Linked DNA regions of Homo sapiens: region 1 is linked to region 2. The links come from fine-mapping of genetic effects on gene expression. A gene starts in region 2. The other region holds a variant in brackets. All regions are shown on one strand. Distances are between the middles of the regions. Region 1 overlaps COL13A1 (collagen type XIII alpha 1 chain). Region 2 holds the start of PPA1 (inorganic pyrophosphatase 1).

What was found.
Region 1: its variant is fine-mapped to the expression of PPA1 in ovary (GTEx, PIP 0.95).

Annotation. Positions count from the first base shown.
Region 1 is chr10:69,887,551-69,896,944 of GRCh38, forward strand. It overlaps COL13A1 (collagen type XIII alpha 1 chain), which reads left to right. Exons shown (of 41, transcript NM_001368882.1): 9 at 754-780; 10 at 1,864-1,890; 11 at 7,002-7,028; 12 at 7,125-7,151; 13 at 8,000-8,026. Among named protein-coding and RNA genes, the nearest start is that of COL13A1, 90 kb to the left of the region's middle. The variant G/A (reference allele first, on the strand shown) is at 4,556.
Region 2 is chr10:70,228,060-70,237,064 of GRCh38, forward strand. It overlaps PPA1 (inorganic pyrophosphatase 1), which reads right to left and starts at 5,370. Exons shown (of 11, transcript NM_021129.4): 1 at 5,205-5,370; 2 at 2,282-2,340. The coding sequence starts at 5,268. RefSeq lists a silencer at 5,012-5,581.

The sequences.
Region 1 (9,394 bases), 340 kb before region 2:
AAACTTCATCTGAGGTCAGCCCCGGTTCCACTCTTTCTCTCCCAAACCCTGGTCATTAAGGACTTGCTTCTACAGCCATTCATGGACACCAACTCAGGACAGTAGCTCAGCAGTCAGGTCATGATGCAAGGAATAAATACAGGGGAGCAAATACACAAATTAAGGGGCAGCAGGACAGGCCCCAGGTGAGTGAAGTCACAGGCTGATAAACCCCAGCATTGACCTGGGAATATAGAATGGACGATGCCCTGTGGGAGAACACCCTGCAGCTCAGCCTGTGCCTGAGCTTTGAGAGGAGATCCAGCGAGGGGGAGGCAGAGGGGTGGCCATCTGGGTGTCCTTGACCTCTGCTTATGGGGCCTAAGGCAGGTTCTGACAGGCAGAGCAGAGGGAGCAGTTCCCCCTTTCTCCCAACCTCAATGCAGGCCAGCCCCTGATTTCTAGGAACACACCACCTACTCTGCACTCAGGACAAGGGTGAGGTCCTTGACATTAATGGGGAGGCCACCCATTGGGTTCTCTCTTGCGCTGTGCACCTGGCATCCAACATTCTATTATTCTCAACCCCATTTCAGGATGGGAAGTTGAGGCCTAGGCTTACCCATAGTCACATTAACAAGTACGTGGTCAAGCAGGGCCTTGAGCTCCAACTTATCAGAATCCAGAATCTGTGCTTTTCCCCACTGCCCAGGCAGCCTCTTTGGCAGGAGTCCTGTGATGCTCAGTCTTTACATCTGGCCTTTCTGGTTTCAGGGTCCCATTGGGCTGGACGGCAAACCGGTAAGTGGACCCGCTCTCTCCCCTCACTGCAGGTCAGTGATCCTGGATCTCTTGGTCATTCTGCAAGATATTGAATCCTTGGAAAATGCTTTACTTAGAAAGAAAAGTCCTGGGGCTGAAGGTTGTCACTAGTGGGAAGTGGAGGGGGCCATTTGAGTCACCCCTGACCCCAGTGGCCTTCCCCAGGGCACAGGTCCCCAGCTGCTGAGCTTGGCTTTCGAAGTCCAGGCGAGAGCCATCCCTAGAATGGGTGATTCTGGGTGGGGTGGGGGTGAGATCAGGAGGCAGTGAGGAGAGTGGAGGGTACGGAGGTCAAATAGCTGGTCTGAAGAGCCTGGCCACTCATGCACACGCTTGCCCCTGCTCCCCAGCACCTGTGTCTCCCATGGCCCTGTCCTCGAGGTCAGGGTCTCCCTCCCCGATTGAGACCCCACACGTGTGCTCAAGTCCACGTGGAGACTGCTTCCCACCATAGCTCCTCTCTTCGTTCATTTCAATCCTTTGGACTTGGTTCCCTGACACAAATGTTCATGGGAGAAAGGAGTCCCCTCCCCAGTCCTAGGAGCAAGTCAGCTGGAAGGGAGCATGACCCATCCAAAGCCCTCAGGGTGGACGGAATGCAGCCCCACTCACAGCCATGCCTGGCCCCGCCACTCGCCTCTCTCAGTTGAGGGACCCTAGCACCACCCAGTTACTCCCCAACTGCAGGCCAGCGAGCTAAGTGCAGCCCAGGGGTGCCAGCAATCATTTCCACTCATGTCACGGGACCAGGCATCCCCCGAAGCTACCCTGGACATGTGAATGGCATGAGCGTTGGGGTCTAGGGAGACTACCCCCACCCCTGCTCTCTGAAGGGCAGGCAGCTGCTAGTGAGGCCCAGCGAGGGGCAGTGAGCAAATGACCTTGCCTTAGGGACTGGGTGAAGGAGTGCACAAGCCAGAAGGTGCAGATGGAGCACAGGGGACAGGGAGGAGCACGGGGGGCAGGGAGGAGCACAGGGGGCAGGGAGGAGCATGAAGGACAGAGGGTGGAACTTCTGGGCTGCGAACAGTGCACCTGGTACTCACCCTCTTCTCCTTCCAGGGCCACCCAGGACCAAAGGGCGACATGGTAAGAGCCCAGCTTTCCTGCCTTCCCGAGATGGGTGGGGGTTGGCCCAGCCTCACAGGCACAGCCAAGCACTGCAAAGTGGGTCCCACAGGGACAACAGGAATGGCTGTCCATGCTGGTCACTCCCCAGCTGTGTAAACCACATGCCCTGGATCCTCACATCAATATGCAGGGAGGAGAAATGGGCAGGGGCTTCTCCATCTGAAGCATGAGGATGGGAGATCCAGAGAGAGTGCACACCTGGCTGGTAGCACACAGAGGTCGGTGTCCAGCTTACTGCTCTCAAACCACACTCGCATGGGCCTTGGGAGACAAGGTTTCATCTGCACTCACAGGGGACACTTTCTCTAGGAGACACCATTTCTACTGAGCCTGAGGTCCCTCAAGGCCTCATAACCCCTTCCGGGTGCTGGCTGTGCCCTGAGCCACCCCAGGACTCCAGGGGTTCCTGCCCCACTGGGGCTGGTGGTGCCCAGTGGATCATCTCAGCTGGGGGTGCCACATGCATCATCCCAAAGGCCCCTTCCCCTCTCCCTTCCTGGGAGTTTCTGTTTGGAGGTTGGGCCACTTGGCAAGTCAGGAGCAGGAGCAAGGTCTTCTCTTCCATGTCACAGCATCCCGCGGCCACCACCCAGATGGATCTGCCCAGGGTACCTGGAGTGCCTCAGGCCCCAAAAAGGTGGAGAGACAACATTTGGCCCAGCTTTCTCCTGGCCCCTACCTTCTGCAGAGCTTTGGAAATAAATTTTCTGTCTCCACAGACCATCCCTTCCAGAAGGGAATGAGGGGCTGCGCACTCTCACGGTGGGCCAGATCTCAGCAGGGACTGATGGGCCATTAAGAGCTAATGGGCCCCTGCTCCCACACTGTGGAGTGTATTTTGGTTTTCAATAAATCCCTGCTTTAAAAAAACAAACAAACAGACAGACAAACAAAACAGCCCTGGGCTGGGGTGCATTTCTGCCTCCTAAGATCCAGGTCGCACCTACTGTGAGGGACCACCTCCTGCTCCACAGGTTGGTGGGCCAGGAATTTGTGCAGGGTGGTGAAAGCAACGCAGCAGGCTCCCCCTGTCCCTGTTCAGTGGGGGCCTGGCTCATGCCTTGCTCCAAGCGCTGGTGTGAAGACAACCCTTGACCCATGACTGGGGCACTGCCAGGGCATGGAGGGAGGCAGGTAATCATGTGGGTGGAAAGGGGGATGGTGGAGTGTTGGCTGCAAGGCCTGGGCTCCAGCCTAGCTCTTCCTAACTTGCCAGCTCCCTCTGGGCCCCAACCTGTCCTCTTGACTCAGATCCAACTAATATTTATTGAGGGTTTGCCACGTGGTTGGCACTGGGCTAAGCACTTTGCATGACTGTCTCAATCCTCAGCGTAACTCTGTGCTCCAGGTCTTGCTAGAATCCCCTTTGACAGGTGTGGAAACCAAGGCTCAGAGAGTCTAACTAACTTGCCTGAAGTCACACAGCTGAATGTCCAAAACAAGATCGAAACACAGTTCTCAAATTCCTTCCCTCCCTTTTTTTATTAAGGTTTTATTACCTTCCTCCCTTTCTGTTTCCCTCACTCTTTGTCAGCCTTCCTGCCACCTTCCTTCTTTTAATGCATTTTTTATGGAGTATCTAAAATGTGCTGGGCACTGCTTCAGGTGCTAGGGATACAGACGGGAGCAAGAGAGAGACTGTTCTTGCCATCTGTAGCTCACAGTCTAGTAGGGAGACATCCTTTTAAATGATCACTCACATAACTAACAAGTTGCTTTGCAATGAGTGCTATAAAAAGATAATCCTTAGTGCCCTGGAAATCTTGGTATAACAAAAACCTCACCCAGGCCAAAGGTCGGAGACGGCTTTTCTGAGAAAGAGACTTTTGAACTAGTGCCTGAAGAATGAGCATTCAACCGAGAGAAAATAGAAAGGGGGATGGGAATGTGCTTTCTGGACATGGGAGAATAGCACGTGCAAAGGTCCTGAGGTAGGAAAATCCTTGACATGTCTGCAGAACCGGAGGAAGGGCACTGGAGGCAGAAGGCCCTGGAGGCAGTGGCAGAAGAGCTGGCGCTGGAATCCAGGTTCCCCAGCAAGGTTTCCTCTCCATCACAGCTGCCTCCGCTGCAAATGCATTTCCCCCCGCCCCTACCCCATTCCCAGGCATGCTGTGCACATGCATGGAGTAGTGGAGACCGAGGCAGGAAGAAACTGCCATGCCACATTGTTATAGAGGCATAAAGGGCTTGGGGTGCTCATCCCTTCAGCCTGAGCTTCTTTCCCTCTCTGGCAGCCTTATGCTACCGTAAGGCAGCCCATGGCCCCCCAGAAGTAATAATAATGGTCATCCTCTAGGCAGCACTCTGTCATCCTCATAACAGCTTATCATCCCCACTTCATGAGAGGGGAAATTGAGGCACAGAGTGGCTAAGTACATTGCCTGAGGCCACAAAGCTCCTAAATACAACAGCTGAGATTCAGACCCATGCAGTGGAGTCTTACCCCTCGATCACACCTCCTCTCAGCAGCCAGCACTTTGTCCTGGAGGAAAGGGACCCTTCCATGGGGCCGCTTTTCCTGCCCTCATTCTGCCACACCGTCCCTCTGCCCCACACACTTGACCGCCTGTCCAGGGATCAGAGCTAACTCAACAGAAAAGGCAGGCCCACCCCCTCTCTC[G/A]TGAGCCCACATCAGTGGGATAGATCCCCTGTCTGCCTCATCAAATCCAGCAGGCCACAGAGCATCTGATTCCTGTTTGGCTTGGCATGGGTACCCGAGCTGTTAGTTGCCCACCGCTGTCCAGCATCATTACCTTGCCCTGCTCTTCATCTGTCTGTCTCCTGCCCCAGATGCTGTCCCCTCCACTGGCGTCCCACTGGGGCACTGGCACTCACCCTCATTGTTTAACCTGTGTCCTCACCTCTCAAAAGGGAGTCACCTCTGCCCCACCCCCCCACTTCACATTATTCCCAAGAACCTGAAATAAGGTGTTGAAGTGTTGGGAGGACACAGTTGTATAATAGTGTAGTTGGGGGGTGGACAAGATTGGGGGTCTGAGACTCAGGAATGACATAAGGGCTGTAAAGCAAGGCCTGGACTGAGTCCAAATCTCACCCACCACCCACAGGGCTGTCGAGTGAGGAGCGCCAGGCACTCAGAACATGCTTGGCACCCGAGAAGCAGACAGGCGCCTTAGCTATGCCTCAGTGGCGGTTAGCACAGGCCTGCTGGCAAGTGCTAAGCACATCACCGGTGGCCATGGCCCTTAAAGGGGCAGGTGCTGCCTGGCTGAAGATAACTGGTACCATGTGTTGTTGGACCTCGACATAATTAAGAGAAACTTGAAATCCAAATTTTTATTTGCACTCTGCTTGCTCTCTTAAGTATTGGCAACTAGTTGAAATAAAACCATGTGGGACAAACAAAATCCCTATGAAGACCACGATTGTCCCCTGGGCCACCGTTTGGGATGTCTGGTTTCAATTGTCCAAGTCTCTGCAGTCCTGAAACTCCGCCTGCCCCTCCCCCATCACACTTATATCTCTGTCCTGACAGAGGATGACCTGGTCACCTGTGGTCTGGGCCCGGGTTCCCTGCCGGATGAATCATGTGCTGCAGAACTTCATTCTAAGCACTCTGCCAGGCCGAGCGCGGTGGCTCACACCTGTAATCCCAGAACTCTGGGAGGCCAGCACGGGCAGATTGCTTGAGTCTGGGAGTTTGAGAGCAGCCTGGGCAACATGGCAAAACCCTGTCTCTACAAAAAAATGCAAGAGTTAGCCAAGCACGGTAGTGTGTGCCTGTAGACCTAGCTATTTGTGAGGCAGAGGTGGGAGGACTGCCTGAACCCAGGAGGCAGAGGCTGCAGTGAGCGGAGATCACACCACTGTACTCCATTCTGGACAACAGAGCGAGACCCTGTCTCAATAAAACAATAAAAGACCAATAAACACTTGGCCAGCCACATGGGCTGGGAGTGCCACATGGATGGTCCCAAAGGCCACTTCTCCCTTCCAGTGATGCTCTTGGGAGTTTCCCAGTTTGGAGGTGGCCCTGTTGGCAAGCGGGGAGCAGGAACAAGGCTCTGGCACATCACAGCATGCTGCGGCCACCTCCCAGATGGACCCACCCTTGGGGATCTGCAGTGCTTCAGGCCCCAAAGAGACTGGTGGCTCAAAGGGACCTGCTTATGGCTCTAGCCAAGTCTAGAAGCCCTGACTCCCAAGGTCTGGCCCAGTTCTGAGCATTTGGCAGTGGAAACAGCTGGACCTTGGCCGTCAGACAAACCTGGGCTCCTGTCCCAGTGCCACCTTTCACTGAGCCATGGGGCCTTGTCTCTGTCACCTCACTCGGGAGCTGGAGTGGACACAAGCATCTCCCTCACAGACACATACCTGAAGAGCCAGCCTCAGGGTGGATCCTCAGCCCATAAGGCATTTGTTTTCTCCTCTTCCCTCCACCAGCCTTGGTGCAGCCTCCTAAGAGAGCCAGAGCATGCGGGGCCCTCCCCAGACAGCAAGGGTCCCTCCCAACCCCAGCTCCTTTCCTAGCCCTGCATGGACAAGACAACCTTGAAGGAAACTTCAAGACCCCTCATATTCCTTGGAGAAGTCCAGAACATGGCTTCAGTTGCCAACTTCCTGCTTTCTCTCTTTTGCTGAAGGTTTCTCTAAGGCCCCCATTGTCTGAGGCACCGGCCCAGCACCCCCAGGCCAGAAGTTCTTCTGGTTCAGTGGGCTTCACTGCAGCCTGGGAGGCAGGAGGTGGAATGTGCTAGTGTCTCCCAGAGGCTTGATGCATGTGAGGTAGGGGGTCCCATGGAGCAGAAAACTCCCTGACCTCTAGGTAGAGCCCCTCCATAGCTGGCCCATGAGATGCTGGTGGTTGGAGGAATGGATGAAAGATGCCATCTGTTCTTCATCACAGCCCTAGTCCTGCCCACTGGGGGGTGAAGCAGCTGAGACTCTGTGAATAAGACATCTTGAATGTGGTGGGCATGGGAAGACCTGGCCATGGCTGGTAGAGCCCAGCCTTCGGGATTCAGCCCCAATCCCCACCCAGGCAGGTGTCCCTGATTGCCTGTCTTCTGTCTGCCCACTGACCTGTGTGTGTTTGCTTCCCACAGGGTCTGACGGGTCCCCCAGGACAGCCGGTTGGTACCTCATCCATCTATTTCCCAGCAGAGAAGCTTCCGGTGGCTGTGACCTTAGCTTTGGTTTCTAACTCTCTCATCTCCGTCTCTTTGTAGGGACCCCAGGGACAAAAAGGAGAAAAGGTAAGAGCAGTGGAGGTTTCCTAGAGTCTCCATCTCAGGAAATGGCCTCCCAGTTGGTAGAAAGGGGTCAATTATGGTTATTTTCAAACTTCAGTTTTAATTGACAGAACCAGGAAAGCCCCCGAGGTGCCGCATAATAGATTCGGTTGACACCGCTCCAGGGGACATCCTTTTCTTGGAGTGAGGGGTCCTCCTGGAGGCTGGTCCGGGTGACATCCTTTCCAGGGGTCCTCCTGGAGCCTGGCCCTCTTCAGCCTCTTTCTGGGCCCCTCCCAGCTGTCACTCCATGGTGTTCCCTGACACCTCCATGAGCCTCTGGGATTCTGAGAGGCATCAACCTGTAAACCACTGGCCTGGCCTCCTGCCCTCTCTGTCTTGTTGAATTTCTGATAGAGACACTGCTGTGCTTGCCCTTGGGCCGCTGGTACAGGGGCCTGGCGCTCCCAGCTCAGAGAAGGTGGCTTGGGACCCCCATGGTGCCGGCTGCTCCCATCCGGTGGCTCCTGTTCAGGGCTGTCTGGTGGGCCTGCCTAGAGGGTCAACCTTTCGCCAGGCATGGGGCATAACTCCCGACTCTGCCATTATGGCAAGTGGTATAAGGCGAAGCCCCACCCCTAGGCTCCCTGGGGCCACTTCCAGGCAGGCCATGGAAGTTTCTTCCCTGCTGCTAGCCAGGGGCAAGGGAGGGACTTAGTTCTTCTGCCTCAGAGGGCTCAGACCAAAACTAGAGCAGGAGGGCTGGTGAGCGGTGACATGTGTGGCATGTCCTGAAGTGCTGGGGGTGCCCTGAGAAACAGGTACCCCCAACAAGTGCCTAACACCACCTTTCCCTTCCCTCTCCTTCCCAGGGTCAGTGTGGAGAGTACCCACACCGGGTAAGTGAACCCCTAAAATTTAGCAGGGCACTTTGATCCATCCCTGGGGCACAGCGCCCAGCTCAGCCTCATCTCCCTGGGGTCTCCAGTTACTAACAGATCATGGGGGAGCAGGAGCACCCACTGCCCTCTGCACTCAGCAGTCAGAGAGGGGAGCTTGGGATGGTGGTGCGTCTGGTGGGAACAGCTGATGTGTCTCTCCAGCCATGTGCTATATGGAGCCGCTCATCACCCGTGCGTGTCTGTACATCCGCCCCTTTGTACGTACGTCTGACTCGGTATGTTGGAGTCTCCTGCTGTGTGTCTGGAGCTCTGTGGCTGCTCTGCACATGGCCCCCTGTGGCAGCGTGACTTGTGTGAGTCTGTTTGACTCCCCACCCAACAAGCATGTGTGTGCGTGTGTGTGGCGGTAGGGGGGTGGTGTCTGGCAGCCTAGCCGTGGCCAAAACAGTGGGACTTTTCTATTAGTCACTGTATCAGATGATGGTGTTTCACATCCAAACCTCGATGATGGGAGATAATCGGGGACTGACTGCAGCAATTCAAGGATAAAATCTCTCCTTGGCCTCTTTAAAAGCAGAGGAAACCCTTCTCCAAGCAGGGTGGGGATTTCAGGCTGAGATGGTTCCTCTGCCCACCCCCGCCTGCTCCTTCCTTTTCCTTGCTCCACCCCAAGACACAGAACCCAAAAGACTGCTGTTGTCCTGTTAGGAATCTTCAAACTTGTGTCCCAGCAGCAGGGTCGATCTTGGGACAGGGGAGAGCAAGATACGCACAGCTTCCTCCAGTAGGAGCCCCAGTGAGCTGGACCCAGAAAAAAATGCCCCTCATTTTGTGGATTGGCCTCGTTGCTCCCAGACCTGGACAGCAGGGATGGAAGATGAGCATCTTTAGGCATCTCTCCCCGCTGTCATGTGCCCCATGGTGCTCAGCTTCCCTGGCTGCCCACCCCTGCCAGGCAGGTCCGGGTGGTGCGATTTTGGGAGTGGAGACAGACATAAGCCAGGCTCAGTGCCAGCTTGACTCTAGAAGGCTGTCAGGAGGGCAATGCTAGCAGGGCCTAGCCTCTGCCCAGACCCTCAGGAAGCTGGAAGGCAGGCCTGAGGTCTGGGTTCCTGGGCCAGGGAACCACTGTGAGCCTGGTACGTGAGAGGCTGGGATGGGTTTAAGGCTACGGCGGTGCTGGGCCCGGGCTGAGGAAGGCAGGCCAGCAGCAGCACAGTCAGAGCCACAGCCTGTCAGCGGCATGTGCTCCAGGGATGCAGGGGCCCTGCTGTTCCGGCCAGCCTGATCCTGATACAATAATAGAAGGTCAGCTGTGTTTATTTGAAACGATGGGCTCACGGGGTTATTATGTTACCCGAAAGA
Region 2 (9,005 bases):
AGGCAGGAAGGCTTCTGCCCAAGGTCCACTGAGGTCTAGACTACTGGTAAAATCCAGAGTCATAAGAACTTGTGCTTTTGAGCTGGGACAGGGCGTGCCAAGGGCAGAGTCTTCCTTTGAGTAATCCACTTTATAGACACAACCAGTCCCTTATAAGGCTTCAGTGTCTGAGAGTAATCTAAGTGAACACACTTAACAGGACACCAAAATGTAGCCTGTTTCCTATTTTGGAGTAACCTGAAGCAGCAATAAGAGTAGGTACCAAAACATCTATGATCATTCTGGTCCTTGGTAGGAATACAGTCACTTAGAACACTGGGAAAATAGCTCTATGTCAAGAAAATGTTTTCCTACCTGTAGCATACCTGTATGCCAGGGTATTATCAATAAACTTAGGGTCATCATTTTATACCTCTTCATTGCTCAAAATGGTCTGAGATGCTACAGTATGATATACATGCTATTATACAACAAGCAGATAATTCAAGCCAACCCAATGGGGCCAATTGAAGAGGGAAGGATTCTGCAGTTTATATCAACTCCCAGGAAATCAGATGTAACAAATTCGAGTTTCTGAATAAATACCACTCTGACACTCCCACAGGAAAAACACATGCCAATTAGAAGTCCCTCCTGTATTTGTGGCACATAATTGGCCTAGGGCTGTTTGCTCCATTGCCTCTAATTGGAGTCTTACCCAGGAAGGCTCCTGGGAAGCAATGTAAAAATTGGAATTTCAGGCAGTACAGAACTGCAGCAAACTTCCTGGTAGAAGTGCAATGAATGTGTCTATTTCTATCTAATAGTCAGGCCCAGAAAAACAGTAAGACAGCACACACAAGAACAAAATTACTATTATTCTAGACGTGCACTGCAAAGTGATGTTCGTGTTGTATATTGACATCTAGCTAAAGAAAGTCAATAACCTATGTAACTCTTACAACTCAAAAACCTTTGTACTCAATGTGAATCAAACTTCCTTACTGAAGGAAAAAAACTGAAAGGTAGAAAAAGAATAAGATATTTGTCCTTGTGTTAAGTTGCTAAATACAGTACAAACTGCTTCCATTGGAAAGGAGAGTAAGAAAAGATGTGTTTTTTAAAATGACTGTTTAAAGTTGTTCTTATAACACATGTTCTTTGTAAAAAGATTAGACAATATAAAAAGACAAAAATGAAAATAAAACCAAGAGTCACTGGCAGTCCCACGAATCATAACTATTTTGATATATATTTTATTGTTATTTATTTTCCTAAGACAGGTTCTTGCTATGTTGCCCAGTCTGGTCTCAAACTCCTGGACTCAAGTGATCCTCCCAGCACAGCCTCCCAAGTGGGATTACAATTGCCCCACACTCAGCTATTCTGGTGTATACAGTTGTAGACTTCTTTTTCCCCTAGAAAAGTAAAGACTTTTACAATTTGTGGTAAGCCTACCAATCTGTATTAAAGTTAGGTTTCTTCTCACTGGTGTATACAGGAACAGCTATGTCCTTTTAGAAGTCTGTGTGCCTACCTGTATTAACTCTATCTTAACTGTGCAAATCTTAACGGTACTAGCCCGTTACTAAATTTTCCTATACTCATTGAATAATCTAGTTTACTTTTACTGTTTCATAAAGATCCCACAGCCAAAATTCTGTGCTGGCTACCTGGTTTATTTTAGAACCAGTAATGAAGTATTACGACTTTAGTTCCAAATACACATACAAAAAGGACCAATGTAATTTTTTCTTTTTTTTTTCCAAGACAGATTAAATACTTTTGCTTTTACTCCTCCTCTCCTTCCCCAAATTATATTTGCTCCTTTAACTAAATAATCTAGTTTTAAGACTAACTTCTTATTTAGTCAATGGACCTTTTTTTTTGAGACAGGGTCTCACTCTGTCACCCAGCTGGAGTACAGTAGTGCCATCTCGGCTCACTGCAACCTCTGCCTCCCAGGCACAAGCGATCCTCTCACCTCAGCCTTCCAAGTAGCTGAGACTACAGACACATGCCACCATGCCCGGCTAATTTTTGTATTTTTTGTAGAGACAGGGTTTCACCATGTTGCCCAGGCTGTTCTTGAACTTCTGGACTCAAGCCCTCCACCCGCCTCAGCCTCCCAAAGTGCTGGGATTACAGGCGTGAGCCACCACGCCCAGCCTAATCAACAGACCTTTAGCTCACAGCACAACGAGGCATTTTAAGCACTTGTTGAGAGACATATAAGAAAATTCATATGTAGAACTAGCTGATCTGAGTAAAGAGACTGTGTCCAAAAACAAGGATGCCTTACCTTATCTGCATAAATTGGAATATCATGAAATGGAGATATATATTGTCCTTTCTCATTTTCTGCAAAATAAATTAGAAAAAGTTATTACTATAATTAATTGTATTGCTAAATGCCCACAGTACACATTTTTTTTTTCTGAGATAAGGTCCCTTACTCTGTCACCCAGGATGGTGTGCAATGGTGTGATCTTGGCTCACTGCCACTTCTGTTTCCCTCTTGAAGGCTCAAGTGATCCTCCAGCCTCAGCCTCCTGAGCCGCTGGAACTACAGGCATGAGCCACTACGTCTGGCTAATTTTTGTGTCTTTTGTAGGGAGGTGGTGTTGCCATGTTCCCCAGGCTGGTCTCCAACTCCTGAGCTCAAAGCAGTCTGCCCACCTCAGCCTCCCAAAGGGCTGGAATTACAGGGGTGAGCCACCGCACCCTGCACCCGACCAGTACACATTTTTAAACCAAGATATTATTCTTACACTAGAAAAACTGTTTGTATACTTCACTTCTCCTGACTGTACTCCCAGGCTAGGCTGGGTTTACATCCTATGCACTCTGTAGGCATCTAATAAGTACTAATCTCTATAGTGAGAGCAGAGACTACTGAGGACACAAAAGGCGATTAAATTGTTTTGGACTGATCTTACATCAGTTAAGTTTACAGAACCATTATGAAGTACTTGGGAGGAAGGGAGGGGACCACTTTACTAAACAATGTTGCTAAAAGTGGTGTTCCCAGAGACAGCCAGCCATCTTAGATTATGACTTTCTTTAAGGATAATCAAGTTGCAACAAACATCTTCACAAATAATTTCTATTATATTCTAGATATATATTACTAATATATTCTAGAGGCCTAACTATAGCCAAAAAGTAATTTTAAAACTTCTTCAGTATTCTTTAGGAAACCTACTGTCCACATCGCATCCCTTCAAGTTTAAAAATCAAAGTGGAGGCCAGGCACGGTGGCTCACGCCTGTAATCCCAGCACTTTGGAAGGCCAAAGCAGGTGGATCACTGGAGGTAAGGAGTTCAAGACCAGCCTGGCCAACATGGTGAAACCCCGTCTCTACTAAAAATACAAAAATTAGTCAGGCATGGTGGCAAGTGCCTGTAATCCCAGCTACTTGGGAGGCTGAGGCAGGAGAATCACTTGAACCCGGGAGGCTGAAGTTGCAATGAGCCAAGATCATGCCACTGCACTCCAGCCTGGGCAACAGAGCGAGACTTTGTTTCAAAAAACAAACAATAAAACATAAAAGTCCCTTTAGGGCCAATTGTGACTTTGCAGTCTGTCCAGCCCTTTATCAGTTTTAAAGAAATTGACAAATGTAATATTATAAAGCTTAAAAAAGTTTATTTCTATTAAGGAAGGATAAAGCACTTAAAATTGGATAACTATGTAGTGGGTTCTAATTATTAGTATTTCTTAAGTTCCAGAGAGTTCCACTTGATAAAAACAGTTACTTCAGCTAGTGCCAAATTCTAGGAGTAGCTTTGGTCTCCCATAACGGCCACCAAATATTAATTGCAAATAAATAACCTAAGTAAAAGCAGTGTGTTTGTTCTGCATATATAGCTTGAAGATCCACCCCTCACCTTCAAACCAGACAGTCACCTCTGTAAGCCTTTCCTACAGAGAAATTCTGGAGCCAACACTATTTCCAGAAAAACAGTCCCATGAATTATTAGTCAAAAGTTACTGGACTGTCCTTGCTGCTTAATTGCAAAATTAAATAAAATGGAGAGTGGGGGGTAGTTCTCACCCTTCCTGGATTTTACCTGATAGTTAACCTTTGGCTAGATGTGTAAGCTTTACAGTTCGCTTTCCTTTTCCTCCCGCACCAGGCTACTTTTTGTTCCTTCAATGCCTATTCATTCGTCTCCTCTACTCCCCGCTTCCCCTTCCTTCATACACCAACTCAGAGTTCGAGGCACCTGCCCATTTCCTTCCAAATAAAACTGTAAAGAGGTTACAATAGAAGCGCCTGTGGTGACACATTTACGAACGCCTCCGTTATCGCCCATAATCTACTCCTAGTAGCTGGGGGTGGGGGGAGTAAGAGGATAAAGAAAAACCCCAAGTAGCTTTCCTCCACCTACAAGGCCAAAAAAACGTGGTGCCCTAAGGAGCGTGGAGGGCGCCAGCATGCAGCCTCCCGGTTTCCCCGTGCAGCCCTAGGTGCAGGACCCGGGGTAGGTACCCCCTAGACGCCGAATCCTGCAAAGGTAAAAACTTGGCACTTTCTCAGTCTTGTTTCCAGACTGACGTCATCTGTTTGATTTGAGGGAAACAGCTTTCTGTTTCATAAGGAGCATTCCCAGCATCGGCGCTGAGGGAAAACAGGCGGCGCAGAGGCAGGAGCACGACCGGGCCGCGGAGGACCGGTCCAGCGCCTTCACAGACGGCTCCCGATCCGGGCCTCAGTTTTCCCGTCTGTAAAACGAGGGGGTGGACTTGGCTCCGCTCAGCGCCGATAATCTGAGCTACGGCGGCGGAATTAAGGTCTTTAGGAAGTCACTGCCCCCCCCGGCCCGGAGTCGCCTTTTCTCCAAACTGAGCAATCCTCTTACGGGAATTATGTTACTTCCAAGCACCTTTCTAGGGTGGGTCGGTGATTTCCTTTTCCCAACAGACCCTGTCAGAGCCAGACACCTGCAAAACTAGCTGGGCCCAGGTTCGGGTACCCCGAGGCGTGACAAAGGGACCATCTCCGTTCAGCGGGGAGGGATGGCCGGAGGCGACCCTCGCCGCCCCGACCGGCGGCGGCAAGTATGCAATGTGAGGCCGGCCAGGCCCCACAACGCGCCCGAGGAGACGGGCCCGCGTCGGAGACCTGGGGCCGAGCGCGGGCCGCACCCTCCCGGGGAGGCAAGGCCCGGGAATGAATGGGCGGACGGGCGCGGAGGGGCCACGGGCCGCAGACACTCACTGAGGAAGACTCGGTACTCCAGGGAGAAGGGCGCGGCGCGCTCCTCGGTGCTGAAGCCGCTCATAGTGCCGGAGTCCTGCCGCCGCCGCTGCCACAGAGCCACCAGCCCGCACGCGGCGCCGACTGACAAGGAGAGAGCCCCACGCCTGCGCACTGCGAGCACTGGACCGGCGGGCGGGGCGGGGAGCGCCTTTAACGCGGCTCTGCTAGTGTTCCCACCCCCGCCGGGCCAACCCCGTGCGCAGGCGCACTCCGCCAGGCCCGGGTGTCCGCACTCCCCAGCCCCGCCCCTCGGGCCCAGCCTCCGCGATGGCAGCTAGGGCTCAGAGGCTGGGCCACGTGGCTGCCGCCGGCGCTGGTTCTGTTCCTTCGGCTTTGGGCTCTGACCCGGGAGGGCAAATGCGCAGGCTCTAAGCTTGGACTAGCTAGGAGTTGACCGCCGACCACGCACACAGGGAACTCACCTTTGATTCTCACACACTCCTCCCCGCAGTCCTATTCCTTATCTCAAAAGGCGTTGATAAGTCACCTGCTTCCCCAGACAGGCTCTGCTTGCGGTCTTAAAGGTGAGCATTTTTCTGATCCGTCGTAACAAAGTTGAGCCATATTACTGACACCCCTAGTGGCTACTAGTAAGGTACTCGCTTCTCCACTTTCTATAATCTCTCTCACTCCGTTGCTTATCTGGGAAGTGAAGATAATAATATAACTATTTCATGAGTTACTGGGATGATTACCCGAGTTAATACACGTCAAATGCCTGAAGCAGAGCCTGTATCTTTGTAAACAATCTGGAAGTTGTTACTGTCACCCTCCCCAGTGGGGGAGGATTTACGCCCCCGCGCCCCCCGCCCCCTCCATCCCCCCTGCCACCCTACTTAACCCACCTGGGTCTCCAGGGGCTTCAGATGGAAGCACTGGGAAGGTCCAGGCGTGAGCTAGAGTCCCGTGAAGGAGTGTTCTCAGGGACAGGCTCTTCTGATCTTGATTTCCTGTTTATATTCCATCATATCAGGCCAGACCCCAAAAACTAAAGTCTGATTGAGGCAGTGGGAAAATATTTGCATCACTTACCTCCCCAGGAATACATGTAAAAGAAAAAAAGTATATCCACAATCCTAAATATAAATTAGCAAATTATTATTCACATTTCAAAGAATGCCTGGTTTTATTTATTTATTTATTTTAATTTCATGGCCAGGATTTCTTTAAATAACTTTTTCTAGAACATTAAAGATAATGTGCCTTAATGACATTTTGAATTAAACCCTTTTTTCCAAACAATGTCTATTGTAAAAAATGAATATTAAATGAAAACCTAGTAAGATCTCCAGTTAGTTATGGTGTCGCTCCCTTTGTCTCCATCCAACTCCCAAACCTCACTGACACCCATTAATTTTCAGAAGGCTGTGATTCACTGATTTTTTGAACATTTCACCACACTGTTTTACTGCTGTTAAAACAGAAGGGCAGGAAAAAAAATTAGCGAAGCAATAGTTTAGTCAATAATTAGGGTCAAGGCCAGGCGCGGTGACTTACGCCTTCAATCCCAGCACTTTGGGAGGCCGAGGTGGGCGGATTACCCGACGTCAGGAGTTGGAAACCAGCCTGGCCAACACAGTGAAACCCTGTCCCTAGTAAAAATACAAAAATTAGCTGGGCGTGGTTGCACGCGCCTGTAATCCCAGCTACTCGGGAGACTGAGGCAGGAGAACACTTGATCCCGAGAGGCGGAGGTTGCGGTGAGTTGAGATCACGCCAGTGCATTCCAGCCTGGGTGACAGAGCGAGACTCTGTTTCAGAAAAAAAAGTAGGATCAAGTTCAAAGAATATTTTAAGGGGATGCTCTTTTGATTGAACTGCTCTATCACTTTTCTGCCTTTGAGCAGATGGAACCAATTTTCTTGGAAAAACCCAGACTCTCATCTGTGACTGACTTAAGAAGACAGCAGTGATGCAATAATAATGTTCTACATACACTTTCCCTTTGCCTCCTGCCAGCTCAGAGCAAGATAATAAAGTCTCACTGACCTCCAGACTTGCACACTGGCTCTTGTTTCATCGAATGTATTCAGAGAGCCAGTCATTATCAGGTCTGGTAAAACACCCAGCCCTGGTGAATTGTAACTTTCCTTTGCAGGCAAGTGTAGTGAGCCCATAGGCCCAAAAGGACCTTGGTCTACCATGTCTCCCTAGGGCCTAGCACAGTACACAGCCTAGAGTAGATGTTTAGTGAATCTTTGCTGGACGGATAGGTAGAGGAATTAATGTAAAGGTGGAAAATACCTTCTTAAGTACATTAGTTTGACAAAGAAGGAGTCCATCTCTTCTCAAATATTATCTTTCTCACTCAGTGACCAAATCTAGTGGCACTTTTCAGTCCATATCCTGTCCCCTTTGCTGTGGGTGACCCTGTTGGGTGTCTCTAATTTCCTTCTTTGGCTTGCGACTACATTCTCTTCTTTTTTTTTTTTTTCTTTTTTGAGACAGAGTCTCACTCTGTCACCCAGGCTGGAGTACAGTGGTGTGATTTCGGCTCACTGCAACCTCCACCTCCCAGGTTCAAGTGATTCTTGTACCTCAGCCTCCTGAGTAGCTGGGATCACAGGCATGCACCACCATGCCTGGCTAATTTTAGTATTTTTAGTAGAGATGTGTTTTCATCATGTTGGCCAGGCTAGCCTCGAACTCCTGGCCTCAAATGATCTGCCCACCTCAGCCTCCCAGAGTGTTGGGATTACAGGCGTGAGACACGGTGCCAGGCCACGACTACATTCTCTTCTCGTGTTCTTCCTACTTCTTTTTTTTTTTTTTTTGAGATGGGGTCTCGCTCTGTCGCCCAGGCTGGAGTGCGGTGGTGCGATCTCGGCTCACTGCAACCTCCGCCTCTCGGGTTCAAGCAATTCTCCCGCCTCAGCCTCCAGAGTAGCTGGGATTACAGGCGCCTGCCACCACGCCCAGCTAATTTTTTGTACCTTTAGTAGAGACCGGGTTTCACCATGTTGGCCAAACTGGTCTCGAAGCCCTGACCTCGTGATCTGCCTGCCTCGGCCTCCCAAAGTGCTGGGATTACAGGCATGAGCCACCACGCCCGGCCCATTCCTACTTCTTTGCTACTCATTTCTCATTCTCCTTCTCAGCCTTCATTTCATCATCTTAATCATCATTGTCTTTCTTATTTCTCATGTTCTCTCTCTCTCTCTAGAGCAATACTCTTTGTCTAGATTATCTCATGTATATCTCTGGCGTCAGCTACCACCTAGAGGTCCTATAACATGAAAACTTTCAAATCTATAACTAACTCTTATTTAACACTTACTGTGGTCATGCTCTGTGATAGGTGGGTAGGGATGTAGCCCTACTAGGCCTTATAGTCAGAACTTATAGTCTAGAAGAAAGACAGACTTCAACAAATAATTATAATAAATTTGGGTGAGTAGAATGATATAGGAAGTACAGGGCATTACATTATGGGAGCAGAAAACCTCTTCAAGGAAGTGACCTGTAACCTGCAATCTGAATGATGACATGGAATTAATAAGGCAAAGGGGACAAGGCAAAAGCCAGAAAACGGTTAGGTGAGACTAGGCCGGGCGCGGTGGCTCATGCCTGTAATCCCAACACTTTGGGAGGCCAAGGCCGGCGGATCACGAGCTCAGGAGTTCGAGACCAGCCTGACCAACATGGTGAAACCCGTCTCTATTTAAAAATATACAAAAATAAGCTGGATGTGGTGGCACGCACCTGTAATCCCAGCTACTCAGGAGGCTGAGGCAGGAGAATCTCTTGAACCCAGAAGGC